Linked DNA regions of Homo sapiens: region 2 is linked to region 1. Evidence: fine-mapped expression QTL. Tissue or cell type: gastroesophageal junction. Region 1 holds a variant in brackets; the other region holds the start of a gene. All regions are shown on one strand. Distances are from middle to middle.

Region 1 (9,919 bases):
AATGTAAATGGATTCTAGTTCTTATTTAGCCAGTGCATGTCATAAAGTGTTACATGCAATTTCTTTTTCTAATTTAGGTTCTATCTCTTTACTTACTAGAATGGAAGATGAGATTCAGCTCACTTGTAGTGCCCCCAAAACACTGGCTGCTGTGGGATGAGGGAGAAGTTGTGTGGGTCTCTCTTCCTAGACACCAAGGCATCCTCAGCTGTTGGAAATGTGATGAATAAGCTTACAGTGTAAAGAACAATTCATCATTTGTCAGTTTTCTCTTAGGATAGTAATTCTAGATTTTTCTTCAACTGTTATCATCCCATCTTTCATGTTGGAAGCTTTTCTAAAATACTTGGTTATCTCCAGCTGTTTATACTTCAGAGTGAGGTGCCTAAAAGCTGGCTGGAATCCATCGGTATTGTTGGGCTTGTACACTGGACTGTCCTTTGTGTGATTCAGTTGGAACCCATCTTTTTTCTTGGAGACCCCCAGATGTTGGTGTCCATATTAGTCCGTTTTCACGCTGCTGATAAAGACACACCTGAGACTGGGTAATTTACAAAAGAAAAAGGCTTAATGGACTTACATTTCCATGTGGCTAGGGAGGTCTCACAATCCATGGTAGAAGGTGAAAGGCATGTCTCGCATGGCAGCAGACGAGAACAGAATGAGAACCAAGTGAAAGGGGTTTGCCCTTATAAAACCATCAGATCTCATGGGATTTATTCACTACCACAAGAACAGTATGGGGGAAACTGCCCCCATGATTCAGTTATCTCTGGTAACTGGGTCTCTCCCACAACACAAGAGAATTTTGGGAGCTACCATTCAAGATTTGGGTGGGGACATAGCCAAACCATATCAGTGTCCATAGGTCTTTTCTGCTGGGTTCTCGAGTTTCTACAGAGAAGACTTATCTCACATTCCGCTGTGGGGTGTGATCTTTGCTGCCAGAATTCTGTGATAAGAGCTGTAGAAGTGGGCTGGGAAGGGAAGGCCTTATAATTTGGGGTATAAACTTTGACTTGGCCTGGCATGGTGGCTCACACCTATAATCCCAGCACTTTGGGAGGCTGAGGCAGGTGGATCACGAGGTCAGGAGATCGAGACCATCCTGGTCTACCCCATCTCTACTAAAAATAGAAAAAAAAATTAGCTGGGCGTGGTGGCGGGTGCCTGTAGCCCCAGCTACTCGGAAGGCTGAGGCAGGAGAATGGCGTGAACCCGGGAGGCAGAGCTTACAGTGAGCCGAGATCAAGCCACTGCACTCCAGCCTGGGTGACTGAGCAAGACTCCATCTCAAAAAAACAAAACAAAACAAAACAAAAAACTTTTGACTTAATTCCTCATTTTTAGTAAAGCATCTGATTCCCACCTTTGGTTGTTCCCGGGCCCTTTGAGCTTAGGCCCTCCTAGATTCAGCCTCCACAGAAGAGATATCTCCTGCTTCTGCCGGGCTAGGGAAAGGGTAGCCAGGCTAGGGAAAGGCTAGGGAAAGGCTGCATGGGGTGGGAGATTGTGTTAGTTTTGCATTGCTATAAAGGAATGCCTGAGGCTAGGTAATTTATAAAGAAGAGAGGATTAATTGACTTGTAATTCTGTAGGCTGTACAAGCAGCATGGCGTTGGTATCTGCTTCTGGTGATGGCCCCAGTAAACTTCCAGTTGATCACAGTGGAAGGCAAAGGGGGAGCAGGCTGTGTCACATGGCAAGAGTGGGAGTGAGAGTGGGGAGGGGCCACGTACTTCTAAACAACCAGAACAAGATCCCTGGGTGAGCACCCAGGAAATGGTGCTAAACCACTCATGAGGCATCCACCCCCATGATCCAGTCACCTCCCACCAGGCCCTACCTCCAACACTAACCACATTTCAACATGAGATTTGGAGGGGACAGACATCCAAACCGTATCAGAAAATTTTCAGATTCTCAGCCAGTCTTCTTGTGTGGAGCCATATCTGTTTCCAGTGATACTTGATTCTTGCAGTTCCTGGGATTTGTCTTGAAATTGGCATGCTGCTGCTTGTCATCTCCCTCCACAGCCTTCAGTTTCAGCCTTCTTCCAAGTTAGTTGAGATTTTTCAGCTCACTTTATTTCTTCTAAAATATTATTGATGTTCTTGTTTTCTCTGGTGTCTCTTTCTTCTGGCTCCTTTTGTGGGAATCTGCCTTTGTAAAGTAATGTTTATCATTTTAGTGGGATTTTGGGAGGGAATAGGGGTGAATGCCTGAGTGCAGTCTGCTGTGTTGAATGAGGAATGGTAGTGGGCTGTCTTCACTTGATAAGTATTTTCCCCTGTTCCTTAGTATTTCTCCATAATGTGCATTTTAATGCCTGCATAATGATCAATTGTATGAGTCTATGATGCCTTATTGTCCTAATACTCTGTTGTTAGATTATGTGTTTCCTCATTTATATACCTTTCCCTGTGTTTACATTTGTTTTCTTAGGGTTGATTCCTACAAACAGAATTACAGAGTTTAAGCATTTTTAAGTCTTTTTTTTTTTAAGACAGAATTTTGCTCTTGTTGCTTTCTGAAAGAGTTGTATTGTATGTACATCCACCAGACATGCATGAGTATGGCCGTTTCATTGCAGATAGCACTTCTCCCTGCTGGTTTAGGTCCACACATGCCTACTAAGTGAAGGAAAAAATTGGGATGAACCAAATGAACTTCAGTAATTCTGTCAGCTCACATGTTAACGTAGCTTGGCTGTCTGAGGTTACATCCTGGCGCTGTGACCGACAGCAAATGACCTAACTGCCCTGGATTTCAGTTTTATCCCCTGCAAAGTGGGGTATAAGAGGAAGAATAATAAGTGAATAGACTTAAGTTTAGATTTTTGCCTGGCTGGCAGCGATGGAGAAGAGCAAAACCAATAAAGTCAGTTTCTTAGGTAGTAATGAAAAGATTGTTCTTTATTATTAAAAAGTGACTTGTTTGGGAAGAAGTGATACATTCTCATTATAAAAAAAATACAAAAAAGTAAAAAGAAGAAATGAAAAACCTCACCCTAAATCTTACCATTTAGAAATAATATTATTTATTTATTTATTTATTTATTTATTTATTTATTTATTTATTTGAGAGAGAGAGAGAGAGAGTCTCACTGTTGCCCAGGGGTGTGTGGCGCAATCACAGTTCAGTGTAACCTCAAACTCCTAGGCTCAAGCGATCCTCCTGCCTTGGCCTCCCAAAGTGCTGGGATTATAGACATGAGCCACTGTGCCTGGCCAATGATGTTGGTAACATTTTTTGAGCCCTGTCTAGAACTTGCCATGGTCATGGGGTCTTATCACACATGGTATTTAATACTTAAAGATGTAAAATAAAATAGACTTGAATTAAAGCAAAGGAAAAGAAACTAAAGCAAGATAGAAATGCTGACTTCATTGCAAGAGAGATTAGCGCTATCTTTTAGAAACTAAATTTATGACAAGATGATAAATAATAAATACTAAGAGATTAGAATAATTTCTTATAAACTATGAGTTTGTGAGACTCTCTCCTTTGAAAGCTAAAAAAAAAATAGAACTGACCTATGCTCCCCCTCTTTCCCAAGCTCCAAAATTTTATCAGTTAATTATGAATTTTACAGTGTGAAGGATTGTAACATTTCTATTCTAATAATGCCACAATTCCCATAGCTCTTTGACTTAGTCCCCTTTTAGGATGGATTCAGAACTTGTTAGTCTTTTTACTGTTTTTTTTTACCTTGCTTGAGTTTTAAATTTTGACTCATTGGTTGGTTCATTGTTTTATTTATTTAATCGATTTTATTTTTTGAGACAGGATCTTGCCCTGTCGCCCAGGCTGGAGTGCAGTGGTGCCATCATGGCTCACTGCTGCCTCACCCTCCTGGACTCAAGTGATCCTCCTATCTCAGCCTCCTGAGTAGCTGGGACTTACAGGCACACGCCCCCACACCTGGCTGATTTTTGTATTTTTTGTAGAGACTGAGTCTCGCCATATTGCCCAGG[C/T]TGGTCTCAAACTCCCGGGCTTTAGTGATCTACCTGCCTTGGCCTTCCAAAGTGCTGGGATTACAGGGGTAAACCCAGTGTGGCCGCATCCAGCCACATTATTTTATTTAGAGAAGCCCTGGTAGGTACTGTGTTCCTTGAGGTCTTAACACTTAAGGATAGCTGTTCCTTGCTTTTATATTTGAAGGACAATTTGGCCGAGTACCAAGGTCTTGGGCCACACGTTCTTGCCCTCAGAATTTCTTAGACATTGCTCCCATTCTTTTTTAGCACTGGATATTTCTGGAAGAGAAAGCTGAGGCTGGGTTAATGTTTCTTTCTTTTGCACATGACTAGCTTTTTCCATTGGATGTGCCCATGAGGTTCTCTGATTCTTTTTGAAGTTTAGAGTTTTACCAGCATTGCTTGGGCATTGGCTGTTTTATGTCACTTTCCTGGTATGTCCTATACCATAATATCTGTTGATTCAAGTCTGTCTTTATATCAGTAAAATTTTAAGATCCTTTAATATTTTTGCATATATTTTGAATGGTGCTCACTTTTTGGGAACCATAGTTGTTAGGTTTTATCTTCTTTGCCTTCTAAATCTAGCATCTATTCTTATTATCATTTGTGTATCTTTGTCCCTCTTGTTGTTCCTTTTTAGTAATTTTGAGTGATTTCCTTGTTTGTTCTCTGCCTCTGTTTACAGAAGCTTACACTATGTTTTACTGTAGTTGTGTGGCTTCCATTCTGGATATTTTTTTTTCTAGTCCATTTATTTCTTCAACTCTATCAGTCCATTTAAAATCTCTTAGATTGATGACTGTCAGTTCTTTGGAACTTCATATCTAGTCTCTGAGCTCCCCATTTTTAGAAGGACCATTTTATCTTTAATATTTTTGAGACAATGGAGGACTATTTTTTCTGAGCTCTTAGTCTGTTACCTTCGTTTTTCAGGCCCAGATTCCTGGGCATGGGACCTCTGCATCCACTTAAGGGTCCACGCTTGGACGAATGCTCCCGTCATTGTCTTGAAATTGTTAATAATTTCTGAACAGCGGGCACTGCATTTTTGTTATGCAGCAGCTTCTGTTGATTATTTTTACAAACGCACCTTATTAGCTGCCTTTGCCTGTGTTCTTATTCAGTGGTCGCTCATCTTTGAATGAGGCCGAGCTGTTTGCCGCAAAAACTGGTGTGGGGTATGCTGAGGACTGGAAGGCAGGGGTGGGGAGTGTTGTGAAACCTGCTCATACTCGCTGCCTCCACTGTCCTCCAAACAATTGTTATTTCTTTTACCTTGAGAATGATCCTCCTTCGGTTTTTGGCTTTTAGGAGGCTTGTGTGTCTCTCTCACAGCCAGTCCCCTTAGCGCCCTGGCTCTCTGAGGCTTGACATATGGTGGGCATGGCGGTTGTTCCCCCAGGCCCTTTCTTCACCCTCACTTTCCTTGTTAATCCAGGCCAGGTCATAGGTATTAAAAATGACATCCACATGGTTTCTCCTTCAGTTCCACCTTCCCAGTTAGATTTTAACTTTTAAAATACTTGAGAAGGGAGAGCAGTGTCAGACTCAAAAAGCCAGCAAGCATTGTTTTTTGTTTGTTTTTTTTTGAGATGGAGTTTTCACTCTTGTTGCCCAGGCCGGAGAGTGGTGGTGAGATCTCGGCTCACTGCAACCTCTGCCTTCTGGGTTCAAGCGATTCTCCTGCCTCAGCCTCCCAAGAAGCTGGGATTGTAGGCGCCTGCCACCCCACCCGGCTAATTTTTGTATTTTTAGTAGAGATGGGGTTTCACCGTGTTGGCCAGGCTGCTTTCGAACTCGTGACTTCAGGTGATCCACCTGCCTCCCAAAGTGCTGGGATTACAGGCATGAGCCACCACGCCCGGCTGCCTTTTAATGTGTCATTTTAATGTGTCATTTTAAAGTTCTGTGCTAATAAGGATGTAGGAGGTTATTTGATTTTTGGAAAATTGTTCATACTATATTAACATGTAAAGGTGCTTTATGAAACAGTATGTGGAGTGTGATTCACCTGTTGTTGCTTCTTAAGGAAGTACGACTCTACATTAAAAAATATTTGAAGGGAAAAAAATACCAAAATGCGATTGCCTGGATTCCTAATGTCCATCCTGCTTCCGCCTTTGGTGATGGTGTATAGCAGTGGCCAACTCCACAGCCTTTACATTTTCTCAGTGATCCTATGCTCTAAGAATTTGTGAGGGACTTGTTTTTAAAAAGATTGTTTCTAGTACCGTGTCTACTCTCTTTTGTGGATTAAAATAAATTCATTCTGATGTTTTTGGCAAATACTTCAAGTGTATTTTAAAATACATAATTTTATTGACAAGATACTTTGAACAGGGAAGAACCAGTTTCACAACCAGCTCTCTTGAAAAACAAAAACAAAACTCTAATTCATAGAGTTTGCCAGTTTCCGTGGTGTAAATATTTCCACCATGGCCAGTTGCAGGCTACCAACATGACATCATTGCACACAGAGTTAGGAAAAAGTGTGTGGTAGCACATTCCTATGTAGTATTGTTACCATCCAGATGCAGCAGGCAAAATAACCTCACAATCACAGATAGATAAAAGTAAAATGTAAAATAATTGGGAAGTGATGATTTTTGAGTATTCATTACTTCTGTAAAATTTATGCTTAATAAATATTGATATAATTTATTTTAATCCATATCTTTATATAATAACTGGCTGGTAAAAATTCCTGAAAATTTAACAGCAGGTCCCCATGAGTTGATACAAAAGCAGTATACCGCTGGAAAGAGCCCTTGAATTTTTAGAAAGGGCTTAACAGGGCAAGTCAAGAAAGTGAAGCATGCAGGCGTTGGGATTGGTAAGATAAAGCTCTCTATGGTTGGTTCAGGTGTCGTTTTGTCCTAGATCTTTATGTTGGGGGGGCTTCCTTTTCTGTTTAAGGTTCCTCGTGATCAGAACACCCATAGAAAACTTGGGGAGATAAGCAAGTGCTCTGCTCTTTAGTATGTAATTTTCTTGGCATTCGAAATGGGATGCTACCTTTCTTGATACCATTCCTGGGAAGCAGCATAGGTTCCTTTAGAAACCTTTTAACACATACCAGGTGATTTTGATTCTGATAATTAGTTTTTTTTTTTTTTGGCTGTGGTGGTAAAATATGCATAAAATTTGATGGGTTTGTTTGTTTGTTTTTTTGAGATGGAGTCTCTCTCTGTCGCCCAGGCTGGAATGCAGTGGCACGATCTCAGCTCACTGCAACCTCCGCCTCCTGGGTTCAAGCAGTTTTCCTGCCTCAGCCTCCCAAGTAGCTGGGATTATAGGTGCGTGCCACCATGCCCGGCTAATTTTTGTAATTTTAGTAGAGACAGGGTTTTTCCATGTTGACTAGGCTGGTCTCGAACTCCTGACCTCAGGTGATCCGCCTGCCTCGGCCTCCCAAAGTGCTGAGATTATAGGCGTGAGCCACCGCGTCCGGCCACATTTACTGTTTTGATCATTTTCAAGCATGCAGCACAGTGGTATTCAGTGCACTCACATTATTGTGCCACCATCACCATCATCTATCTGCAGAACGTTTTCTTTTTCTTTTCTTTTTTTTTGAAACGGAGTTTCGCTCTTGTTGCCCAGGCTGGCTGGAGTGCAATGGCACGATCTTGGCTCACCGCAACCTCTGCCTCCCTGGTTCAAGCGATTCTCCTGCCTCAGCCTCCTGAGTAGCTGGGATTACAGGCATGAGCCACCACGCCTGGCTAACTTTTTGTATTTTTAGTAGAGATGGGGTTTCTCCATGTTGATCAGGCTGATCTTGAACTCCCAACTTCAGGTGATCCACCCACCTCGACCTCCCAAAGTGCTGGGATTACAGATGTGAGCCACCGCGCCTGGCGCTCCAGAACATTTTCCATCTTTCTTCTCTCTCTCCCCTGCCCCTGGTAACTCTTCTACTTTCTGTCTGTCTGAATTTCCCTGTTCTGGATATCTCATGTAAGGAGCATCATACAGTAGTCATCCTTTTGTGACTGGCTAATTTCACTTAGCATAATCTCTTCGTGCTTCATGTTGTAGCATGCGTCAGAATTTCCTTCTTTTTAAAGGCTGCGTAATAATCCATTGTATGTATATCCCATGTTTTGTTTATCCATCTATTTGTTGCTTCTACGTTTTGGCTGTTGTGAATAAAGATGATATGGGCCGGGCGTGGTGGCTCACACCTGTAATCCCAGCACTTTGGGAGGTCGAGGTGGGTGGATCAGTTGAGGTCAGGAGTTCAAGAGTAGCCTGGCCAACGTGGTGAAACTCCATCTCTACTAAAAATACAAAAATTAGCTGGGCGTGGTGGCATGTGCCTGTAATCCCAGCTACTCAGGAGGCTGAGGCGTAAGAATTGCTTGAACCCAGGAGTTAGAGGTTGCAGTGAGCCAAGATCGCGCCACTGCACTCTAGCCTGGGAGATGGAGCGAGATTCTGTCTCAAAAAAAAAAAAAAAAAAAAAAAAAAAGCCATTAACGTGCACATACAGATATATGTGTTCAAATCCCTCCTTCCATTTCTTTTGAGTTTATACCCAGAAGTGGAATCACTGTATCGTATGGCAATTCTATATTTAATTTTTTGAGGAATTGCCATTCCATTTTCTACAGCTCATTCATTATTTTTTGACCTGGAAACTAATGTATCTTTCCAAAATGATTGCACTGACTTATGTCCCTTCCCTTGCAGGTAGAATGTCTTTCTGTGAGCCTCCTCTTTGGTGATGGTGTTCTTTCAACATATCTCATATTTGAATGTTTACACTGTAATGTGATAGCCCAATTAAGAGTGGAGATGCTGTCACATAAGGCACCGTATGATAAGTGTCAGAAGAGAAACACAAGATGCTTTGAGCTCCCAAATAGAGGGGAATGGAAAAAGTTTCATGGCATTTGAGATAATCTTTGATAAAGGAGCAGAATGTTGGCAGGTGGAGATGTGGGGGAGGAGGATCCAGGCAGTGGTAAGGAAGGGGGCTCTGTGTCCTGGGGAGAAATAGAGAAAGTCTTGGAAAGTAAGTTCATGTCACCTTACAGGGCCTTGAATGTCAGGCGAAATAACTTATTCAACTTCGTAGGTGATGAGAGCTGTGGAAGGCTTTGAGCAGGAGAGCAACATGGTTATAGCTGAGTGGAAATCATTTGAGTCCAGAAGTTGCTGGATTACCATATGGAGCTGGAGACTATAGCTGCAGAAATCGTGTGGCTGTTGAAATAATCTAGTGGAGAGGGCTGTTGGGGACATGTACAGTTAGTTATCTTATTTTCATTTTCCTCCTGTTGATGTAATTTCTGTGACCAGAGTCTTGTTCTATTTTAATCTGCAAAGCATGCTGTTCAGTATGACATGTAATAAATGTTGAACCCTCTTTGGGGAGTCAGTCAATCATGAAGACAATTATTTTGACTTGAGACAAAGAAAATGAAAGTCCTGAGGAAAAGTGTTCACATTTGCTATTTTAAGCTGGGAGAGCAAATGTTCTCAGAACTCTGCGGTCCCTTGGATTGGGTGCAGTTTGCTCTGCTGAGCGTGAGTTGGCAGCCCTGCCTGCTTGAACATGGCTGCCGCTTGTTGTTCAGGTTGAGTGGACTTTCCTGGTGGGGCCGAACACCCCTCGCATTTCGGCAGCACCCACGTGGGCCTCTTGTTCACAGGAGTGTCCTGAACAGAACAGTTTCTGTAAGAAAGAAGCCTTCATAAATATTTGTTAAAGAAGTTTCAGGCCGGGTGCGGTGGCTCACACCTGTAATCCCAGCACTTTGGGAGGCCGAGGCGGGCGGATCACGAGGTCAGGAGTTCGAGACCAGCCTGACCAACACTGGTGAAACCCCGTCTCTACTAAAAATACAAAGAAAAAAAATAAAGCTGGGCGTGGTGGTGTGTGCCTGTAATCCCAGCTACTCGGGAGGCTGAGGCAGGAGAATCGCTTG
Region 2 (9,919 bases), 40 kb before region 1:
CAGCTGGCTTCATCAAAGTGAGCAAATGAGAGGGCAAGACCGTATCAGTAAGAAGTTATGGGCCTGGCGCGGTGGCTCACGCCTGTAATCCCAGCACTTTGGGAGGCTGAGGCGGGTGGATCACGAGGTCAGGAGTTCAAGACCAGCCTGGCCAAGATGGTGAAACCCCGTCTCTACTAAAAATACAAAAATTAGCCGGGTGTGGTGGCACGCGCCTGTAATCCCAGCTACTCAGGAGGCTGAGGCAGAGAATTGCTTAAATCCAGGAGGCAGAGGTTGCAGTGAGCCGAGATTGCACCACTGCACTCCAGCCTGGACGACAGAGTGAGACTCCGTCTAAAAAAAAAAAAAGTTACAGTGCTCTGTGACCTAATCACAGAAGTGACACTGCCTTCCTTTTCTGTATTCTATCCATTAGCAGCGAGTCACTAGGTCACACTCAAGGCAGGGGGATTACACAGAATGAGCCCACCACAAATGCTACAAGCAGATCTCTTTCCGCCTTGGGTTTTAATACAGGCTGCCTCAGTTACTGTCAGTGCATACTGTCACGTCCAGAGAGCATCATCACCCTAAACCCAGGTTCTCCGAAAGGTGATGTGTTGAAGGGGAGGGAACTATGGAATAAAAAGTTGTGTTTCACTGTGACGTGTGATCTCTTAATATGAAAGATTTGCTTGCCCCCACACACTTTTGTATATGAGCAGAAAATTCCTGAAAGACTGTAAAAACTGTTGGGAAAATTATTTCTAAGAAGCGAGATTAGGGATGCAGGAAGGGTTCCTTCTAGGTTTCACTTCATACTCTTCTATACTGCTTAATTTTATCTTGACATGTACACACGTTTTACAGTAAAACAGTTAAAATTAATAAGAGGAATTGTTAAGCACAGGGTGATTCCTTAATCCAGAAAGATTTCTAAATAACCCATGCCACAGCTTGGGATAAAAGGGGGATCTAGGGGGATTATACATTTTTATATTCTGAAAGTTAAGCATAAATGACACACAATGACAAGGAAACGCCTAAGTTTTTCAGAAGTTGATTTTCCAGGTTCAGGATTTTCGAGGCCAGGTACCCCTGGCTTTTCAGGGAGAGGAATTTAAAAAGTGCTTTCTGGCCAGGCACGATGGCCTTATGCCTGTAATCCCAGAACTTTGGAAGGCCAAGGCAGGGGGATCACTTGAGCCTAGGAGTTCGAGGCTGCAGTGAGCTATGTTTGTGCCACTGCACTCCAGCCTGGGCAACAGAGCGAGACTCCTTTTTTTTTCTTTCTTGAGACGGAGTCTCGCTCTGTCGCCCGGGTTGGAATGCAGTGGTGTGGTCTCGGCTCACTGCACGCTCTGCCTCCCGGGTTCACGCCATTCTCCTGCCTCAGCCTCCCAAGTAGATAGGACTACAGGCGCCGGCCACCATGCCTGGCTAATTTTTTGTATTTTTAGTAGAGACGGGGTTTCACCGTGTTAGCCAGGATGGTCTTGATCTCCTGACCTCGTGATCTGCCTGCCTTGGCCTCCCAAAGTGCTGGGATTACAGGCTTGAGCCACAGCGCCCAGCCAAGACCCTCTCTTAAAAGAAACAGTACTTTCTATCAGGTTAGGTACCAACCGCGGAATGTTGGTGAGAGCTGGGAGGAAACGTAGGAAGTTCTCTAGTGTGACCCCACCGCTTTACAGCCTCTCTAACTAGATTCCCAGAACTGCCCCTTCTCCCCTCTCTTTTCCCCCATTAACTCTCTCCCCATGGGCTCCTGCCCTCAGCCTGCAAACCTCAGAACGGCTCCTTTAAAAGTCACCTTCACAAATGTTGATAATGTTGAGATAAGGCAACATGGGATATTATGTATTATCATATTGATTAATATGATCAATATATTATGTGTTATGATCATAAATAGTTTTAAGATCACAACTAAATCTAATTCTAGACATACAAAGACTATGAAAGAAATGCTGTAACATGTAGAAAATGTCGGTCTTGCAAAGAGAGTGACTGGGAAAATGTCACTTTTCTAATTTTCTGCGCTTTCTATGATTTTTTGCTTTTATTATTTTTATGATTTTTTTTTTGAGATGGAGTCTCACTTTGTTGCCCAGGCTGGAGTGCAATGGCACGATCTCGGCTCACTGCAACCTCTGCCTCCCGGGTTCAAGCAATTCTCATGCCTCAGCCTCCCGAGTAGCTGGGATTGCAGGCGCGCACCACCACGCCCAGCTAATTTTTGTATTTTCAGTAGAGACGAGGTTTCCCCATGCTGGCCAGGCTGGTTTACAAGTTCCTGACCTCAGGTGATCCACCTGCCTCAGCCTCCCAAAGTATTGGGATTACAGGAGTGAGCCACCGCGCCCGGCCTAATTTTTTCCTTTTAGTTGGGAGGTATGACATAGCACTTTGCTACTACGTGTAGTCCTTGGACCAGCAAGTAACACCTGAGAGCTTGTTAGAAACAGTCTCAGACTTACTGAATCAGAATCTGCATTCCAACAAGATTCCCTGGTGATTCAGGTATACACTAGAGTTTAAAAAGCCGCCTACAGCAACTGTTCTCAAACCTGGCTACACACTGGAATCACCTGCGGAACTTTACTGATGCCTGGGTTAGAATCTTTATATATTTGGCTGGGGTGCAACCAGGGTGTTGTTTTTTAATCGCAGATGATTCCATGAGTTTGAGACCCACTGTCCTAACACTGTGATCCTCCAAGTGTGATCCCAGGACCAGAGCAACATCACTATCTGGGAATTTGTTAGAAATGCAAACTCTCAGGCCCCACCCCAAACCTACTGAATCGGCAGCTCTGGGGATGGAGCCTGACAGTCCTTTATCCCTGCAGGCGATTCAGATGCTTGCTAAGGTTTCATTAGGTAGGTCGGGGATGCGGCCCAAGAATGTTCATTTCTTGACGTTTCCAGGGGCTGCTGGTGGTGGTCGTGGTCTGAGAACCACACTTAGAGAATCACGAGCAGAAAAAAATCTGATCTGTGACACACAGCTGGTTGGGCTGACAGAGCAAAGCCTCAAACCCACCATTTCTTCTCTTCAACCACAGACCACCAAATCTGCAAGTATTACATCTCTGCTCCTCCCCAGGAGCTGCCCACAAGCACCCCCTACTTCCAAGACCCCTGTTCTTGTCTCAACCCGCCCTTCTATCAGGGTCCCTACACTCCACTTCTGCCCAGCTCCTGTCCAGCTGTGAGTTCACTTGAGGCCTCTCCCGTGAAATCTGCCCTCTCGGTCTGAGGTCAGGGAACTCCTGTAAGACGCAAAAGGCCCACGGTTCTGAGCCAGTGGCCTCCGAAGGCCGGAATCCGCTAGCCCCGGGTCTGGCAGAACGTCACTTGCTGCGCCCTAGGCCTCTTCCCGCCACGCTTAGAGAGAGGGACTGGAGGCTCAGAAGGGGGAAGAGAAGGTAACGCGGCAGCTGCTGGGTGGGGACGGTGACTGTGCCCCTAGATCGCTGCCTCCTGGGTCCTGAATCTTGCTCCCCGCTCCGTAGAGTTCCCGAAACCCCGAAGGCTCTCAAGCACCGCAAGCCACTCCTAACCTCCCCCACGCCATTCCCCAAGGGCACTGTCCCCCGAGGCTGGGCGGGCGGGAACTGTCATGGGATTCGCTCGGGCGGAGGGCGCTGGGCCAGGACGTGGGCGGGCGCGGGGTGGCCGCCGCTCCCCCAAGCTTAAGTCCCGCGCAGCCCGGGGTGGTGCCGGAAGCCCGTGCCTGTGGCTCCGGGGGAGGGGAGGGCTCGGTGGGTCCCTGAAGACTGTCCTCCCCGCGCGACGTCGCAGGCGAAGCAGCCCCAGGCAGGACCTCAAAAAGCGACCTGCAGAGTCCGAGCCCCTGACCGCCCGCCTGCCGCTCCCGGCTTCGCCGTGCACACGTCTCCCGCTCTCCCCGGTTCGTTTTTCGCCACAGCTGCTGGATTCGCGTCTCGCCAGTGGCGCTCCCCGCGCTGCATTAGGTAGCGCCGCGCGGAGCCCGGCCCTGGCCGGAAGCCCAAGAGAGGCGCAGATCCCCGGCGGCGCGCTGGGCTCGGGAGGCCCCTGGGCGCACCTGCCCGGGCGGAGCGGAGCGGGGCGGGGCGGGCGCAGGGCGCGGGCCCGGACGCTGGAGGGGGCTGTGGCTCTCCCGCGTCCCCGCTGCTCGGGCTGCGCGGCGCCCGCCTCCCCCCGCCGAGGGGCCGGCCCAGACCCGGGGAGGGGCGGTGGCCACTGCACTTCCCGCTCGCCGGCCTCAGAGGCGGCGGGTCCGGCGCGGGCGCAGCGGTGCGGGCGCTCGGCTGGGGCGCGGGGCGGGGACGCGGCCGCTGCCCGCTTTGCGCCGCTCCTCCCTGCGCGAGTAGCGCTGGCCCCGGCGTCGAGGCGGCCATGGCGACCCGGAGCCCGCTCCCCACCCACCCCGCCTGCTCCGCCCTCCCCTCCGCCCCGCGCCACCTTTGATGGCTCGGACCTCAGCCGGCCACCGCCAGCCCTGCTCGCGCGCCCGCGCCGCCGCCGCCCGCGGGTATTAATAGCCGGCGCCGCCGCGCCCTCGGCCGCCGGGGGCTTGGGAGCCGCCGATCCCGGAGCCCGAGCCGGGAGAGGGAGCCGCCGCAGCCGCCGGCGCTGTGGAGGTAGGAGGCGCGCGGTGAACAATGACCGCGGCGGGAGGGCGGGGGCCGGCGGGGTCCGGGCCGCGGGCGGCAACTTGTGCGAGTCCAGGCTCCCGCAGCGCACGGCCGCGGCTGCGGGCGAAGGTGGGCGCGTGGTCCCCGAGGTCCTGCCCTGCGCAGTCGGGCGGCGGGTCGGGCCCGGGCAGCCCCGGCCACCATCGCAGGAGCTCGGGGGCCTCGGGGCTCCGGGCTGCCCCCTGCGCCCCTCTCCCCTCACCTCCGCCGACGTCGGGCTGCGGGGCTCCGCGCCGGTCCCCGCTCGCCTCCCCCGACCCCGGCGCCCTTCCCCCGTTTCCTTCCGTCCTACCCGCCCGCTGACAGCGCTGGACGCCGCTTCCGGACCTCGGGCCGCAATCTCGGCCCCTGAGGCCGGTTGCGGGCCGGGGAGGTGGCCGCTGGCGCGGATGCCGCCGGGTGCCCGCCGCTCGCCCACGCGCGGCGCGAGGGTTCCCGGCGGGTGACAAAGAGGAACACACCCTCTGCCCAAGTTAGATTTGTGTCTCTCTTTACTGTCTGCCTTTATGCAGGGCAAAGTTTTTTTTATTTTTTATTTTTTAAAGCAAAGGACAGATTGCTTTGCGGCGAGTATTTCCAAACAACTTCTGATTGTGGTTTTACGATTCAAGTTCCGGAAACTTTAGCTGTGTGATCCGGCTGGACCCCGGAGACTCTGTGTGTGTGTGTGTGTGTGTGTGTTTTATTTGAGGGGGGGAAATACGAATTCCCTGTAATGAGTCTGGATCTCGTTTGTGGCAGCTGGAGGCCAGCGGCTGTTGGGGATCGAGTAGGGTTCCCCAGAAAGGAGGGAGCTGAGGCTCACAAAGAAGCGAGGCCCTGGTATCTGATCAGTTCGTGGAGACGTGGGAGAGCCTGCTTGTCATCTGGAACAGTTTAGCAGCCTCGGCCTCCCTGTCTCTCCCAGCCCTGGGGAGTACCGGTGGCCTCTGGCCGTTTCATTATATTGTTGTTAAGGCTCTTCTCCTTGTCAGTTTACCAGGTTTGACCGCCCAGCCCTGGTCTCTGCGTGGAAACCCCCGGGGGCCCCTCTCCTTCCAGTAGGCAACATCTTCAGAGCCAAACCCTGGCCTAGCACTGGCTTCTGTTTAATGTGCTTTGCACGTGGTGACTTGCGGAGCCCATTTCAGAACATCCTCCAGCATTGTCTTGCTTTTCTTATTCAGTCTGAACAAGGAGAGGAGAAAGAAACATCTTTCTGGTCCTGAAAGCTTTAGGGAGAGTTGCCTTAAAAATTGGCTTCGTTGTTCCGGAGACTTTAGGAGGGCCCTGCTTCATCCTATCTTTGGCTTTCTCCCTCCTTCCACAGTGTTCTCGTAGGGGGTTTATTCTCAGTCTTTCGGATGGGTTGGTCTCCAGGATGTGACAGTTTCTGACAGTGTGCTTCATAAGTGGGTACAGCTAGCACATGGCTCACTTTATATTCCTGCAGCATCGTTCTGCAGCAAGGCATCAATATTGGAGTTACTCCAAGCACAACGAAGCGTTTGTGTTTTTAGAATGTCTGGCTAATAGATCTGCTTCTGGGTAAAATAAATAGAAGCATTATTGGGCAATGGCTGCTTTACTGAGGGAATTGTTGGTGGAGACAGTGAGTAGATGCCTTCCTAGCCCAGCGCCTCCCAGAATCTCTTACTTGTTTCTTTTATGTGAATGGGAAACTGGAAACCCTCGGTGTGGAGGTGGCTGTGCCTCCTAGGGGCAGATTCTATGGTGCACCACCCCGCCCCCGTTACTTGGGGTGTGGTGTTTCATTGAGAAGTTCTGTCACTGTGGGAATCCTTTTGAAGCGTGGTTTCTAATGCCCCCTTTCACATTGATATTCTCTTCCTTTAATTGATACAGGGATGGATTTATTCCTTGCTTCATAATAGAATGTTAACTTTACTCTGTAGCCAGACTTATCAAAGAAGATCTTAAAATAATTATCCTGGACAAGTTTCTTACTGGGTTATTGCATTCACCTCAGAATTATCCAGAGTTTACAAGGAACCTGGAGGAACGTTTTTGTTTCACTTTTCGTTAAAGAAACTGTCCAAGGGGGCTGGGCATGGTGGCTCACACCTGTAATCCCAGCACTTTGGGAGACCGAGGCGGATCACTTGAGATCAGGATTTCCCAGCCTGGCTAATATGGTGAAACCCTGTCTCTACTAAAAATACAAAAATTAGCCAGGGGTGGTAGCAGGTGCCTGTAATCCCAGCTGCTCAGAGGCTAAGCCAGGAGAATCGCCTGAACCCAGGAGGCGGAGGTTGTAGTGAGTTGAGATTGGGCCACTGCACTCCAGCCTGGGCAACAGAGTGAGACTCTGTCTCAAAAAAAAAAAAAAAAAAGAGAAAAAAGGAACTGCCCAAGGAAATTGTTTTGTTTTGTTTTTTGGTTAAAGATACAAATAAGATAGCATTGAAAGGGTTAGTTTTTTTTAAACAGTGAAGCTTATACTCATTTAATTTATTGAACACCTAAGAGCTTAATTCATTTGGAAAATTGTATATATTTATGAGGAGGATGCTTGTGATAAACATCAGAAAAAAACAACTCTTTTCATCCTGGACGGGATTAGAGAATACTAGAGAAAGGATAAAAGGCTGGTTTCTGCAGGCAGAATATGCTTAGGAAAAATGGCATTGTGATTTTCCCAGAGGATAAGAGAAATTCTGTGGATTTGTAAGTACTGTACTTGCCTGATTTTTTTTTTTGAGATGGAGTTTTGCTCTTGTTTCCCAGGCTGGAGTGCAATGGCGCAATCTCGGCTCACTGAAACCTCTGCCTCCCAGGTTCAAGCGATTCTCCTGCCTCAGCCTCCCCAGTAGCTGGGATTACAGGCATTTGCCGCCATGCCCAACTAATTTTCTGTTTTTAGTAGAGACGGGGTTTCTCCATGTTGGTCAGGCTGGTCTTGAACTCCTGACCTCAGGTGATTTGCCCGCTTCGGCCTCTCAAAGTGCTGGGATTACAGGCGTGAGTCACAGAGCCTGGCCTTGCCTGATGTTTTGATAGCATGGTGGACTGGACATTTTAAAGAAGCCCTTTGTAACTGGCCTTGCTTATTGCAGATAACTGCTTAGTGTTTTTGAGAAATGCACTTTCCTCACCAGCTGAAGGTGCTACAGATAAGAGGGGCAGGTATAGTCCTGTAATGCAGGTGCTAAAGTCTTTCTACTTTGGAAGGACAGGCATTCCCTGTATTGGTTACCGTTTGCCTGGGAAGGGAGGCTGTGGGGTTTTAGGCTCTCGTGGCAGTCTCTCTCCTGTTGTTTGGTGCTTTTGATTGAAAGGAGCCTCTCCAAGCCTGGCTATTGAATGGGAAGCAGCGGATCAACTTCTTTTCTTGTCTTTTAGTGTCAGAGTTTATTCTGTGGTGGTACTGGGTCACAGTCCTTTCTCTCTGTTTCACCCATGGCAACTTAGGTAGGCTGTTACCTCCTTAACCACTTCCACATGGCCAGGAAGATCAGAGCCAAACGGTTTTCATTCAAATTACTTGAAATACTGATTTCTCCAGTCCTGTTCTGCCAAATGCAGCCTTTGTTTTCAATCAAGAAGCCCCCAGAAAACGTGTATTTAAAACTGGCAAAACTTTTTATAGGATGCCCTTGCCCTGGTTTGAATTAGTTAAAAATGTTTGGCCAAGTGGATACTTTGAGCAAAAGTGGATAATGGATACATTACTAAAATATCATGCTCGAAGCTTTTGATACTAATCCGGCGAGACTGAAACTGAGGCATGCTCAGTGCTGCCTGCAAACTGTTAACTCAGATTTTAAGTTTTCTTAGTTTAATGTGGGATGGAAATTATGAACTTCAAGACTTGCAATTAATGTGGGAATTCATCATTTACACTGAATGAATTTCATATGTAAAACTGTCATATTTGTTCACACATTAAAAAAAAGAAGAGCCTCAGGCCACACTAGACTGCCTTTAACTCTCAATTATGATAATAACCTCTGACCACAAGAGTAACTTCACTTTATGTGCAGACTTTTGACGAAATGCTTTGCATAAATTTATTATCAATTAGAAGACTTAAAAATCCAGTATTATGATGACTTTCAGTTTTTGTTCTTGTTCATTCAGGATCTAGTATAGTATCTGAATATAGCAAACCCTTGGTAAATTATTGTGTTCTGTTTTCTTTTTGAAAAAAACTCGAGGCTGGAGTGCAGTGGTGATCATGGCTCATTGCAGCCTTGACCTCTTGGGCTCAAGCAATCCTTTCATCTCAGTCTCCCGAGTAGCTGTGACTACAGACACATGCCATCACGCCCAGCTAATTTTTTCTTTAAAAAAATTTTTCTTAGAGAGTCTCACCGCTATGTTGCCCAGTCTGGTAAATCCTTGTTGAATGAATAATAAATCCAGTTTTTACCATCCCTTCAAATTAGTCTTTAGGGTTTTTAAAGGAAACTTGTTATTAGAATTGATAGATTGCAGTTCTGGCAGTTTGATATTTGATTTTGTTTTCATTTCATTCTAATTTAGCAATTGAATCCTTAAAGCTAAGTCAGATTGTAAAAAGACAGAGGTTCCTTTTCAAAAAAAAAGACAATAAGGTGCGGTGGCTCACGCCTGTAACCCCAGCACTTAGGGAGGCCAAGGCGGGCGAATCATCTGAGGTCAGGAGTTCAAGACCAGCCTGACCAACATGGAGAAACCCCGTCTCTACTAAAAATACAAAATTAGCCAGGCGTGGTGGCGCGTGACTGTAATCCCAGCTACTCGGGAGGCTGAGGCAGGAGAATCGCTGGAACCCGGGAGGCGGAGGTTGTGGTGAGCTGAGATTACGCCATTGTACTCCAGCCTGGGCAACAAAAGTGAAACTCCGTTTCAAGAAAACACAAGACAATAAAAGCATGAAGAAGAAAATAAAACAAACTTGAAATCCTGCCACCTGTTACTGACTCCTACCTTAGCATTTTGGGATCTGTTCTTTTATATAGCCTTCTCATTTCTTAACCTGCGCCAAATTTGACATTCTAATTGTTTTATATGGTACTTGTCTGTAAATTTAATGTGCTCACCATTCCTTTTTGTACTTTGAAGCTTGCTTCTGGGATACATTTTCCTTCTTCCTGAGACACATCTTCTAGAAATTCTGTTAGCATCTGTTGGTGGTAACTTCAGTTTCTGCATGTCTTAGATACCTTTGTTCTTGAATGGTAAGTTTATCTGGGTGTGCAATTCTGTATTGTTCCTGTATTAATCAGCTGTGTTCTGGTCCCATTGCTGTTGCTGTCTAATTATTTGTA

The links.
Region 2: FARP1 starts here. The variant in region 1 is fine-mapped to the expression of FARP1 in gastroesophageal junction (GTEx, PIP 0.90).

The regions. Positions count from the first base shown.
Region 1 is chr13:98,178,562-98,188,480 of GRCh38, forward strand. All of the region lies in intron 1 of FARP1 (FERM, ARH/RhoGEF and pleckstrin domain protein 1), which reads left to right. Among named protein-coding and RNA genes, the nearest start is that of RNF113B, 6.3 kb to the left of the region's middle. The variant C/T (reference allele first, on the strand shown) is at 3,978.
Region 2 is chr13:98,138,880-98,148,798 of GRCh38, forward strand. FARP1 (FERM, ARH/RhoGEF and pleckstrin domain protein 1) reads left to right here and starts at 4,215. Exons shown (of 27, transcript NM_005766.4): 1 at 4,215-4,613. LOC105370328 (a long non-coding RNA gene) reads right to left here and starts at 5,031. Exons shown (of 3, transcript XR_931670.4): 1 at 4,960-5,031. RefSeq lists silencers at 3,666-3,715, 3,956-4,265.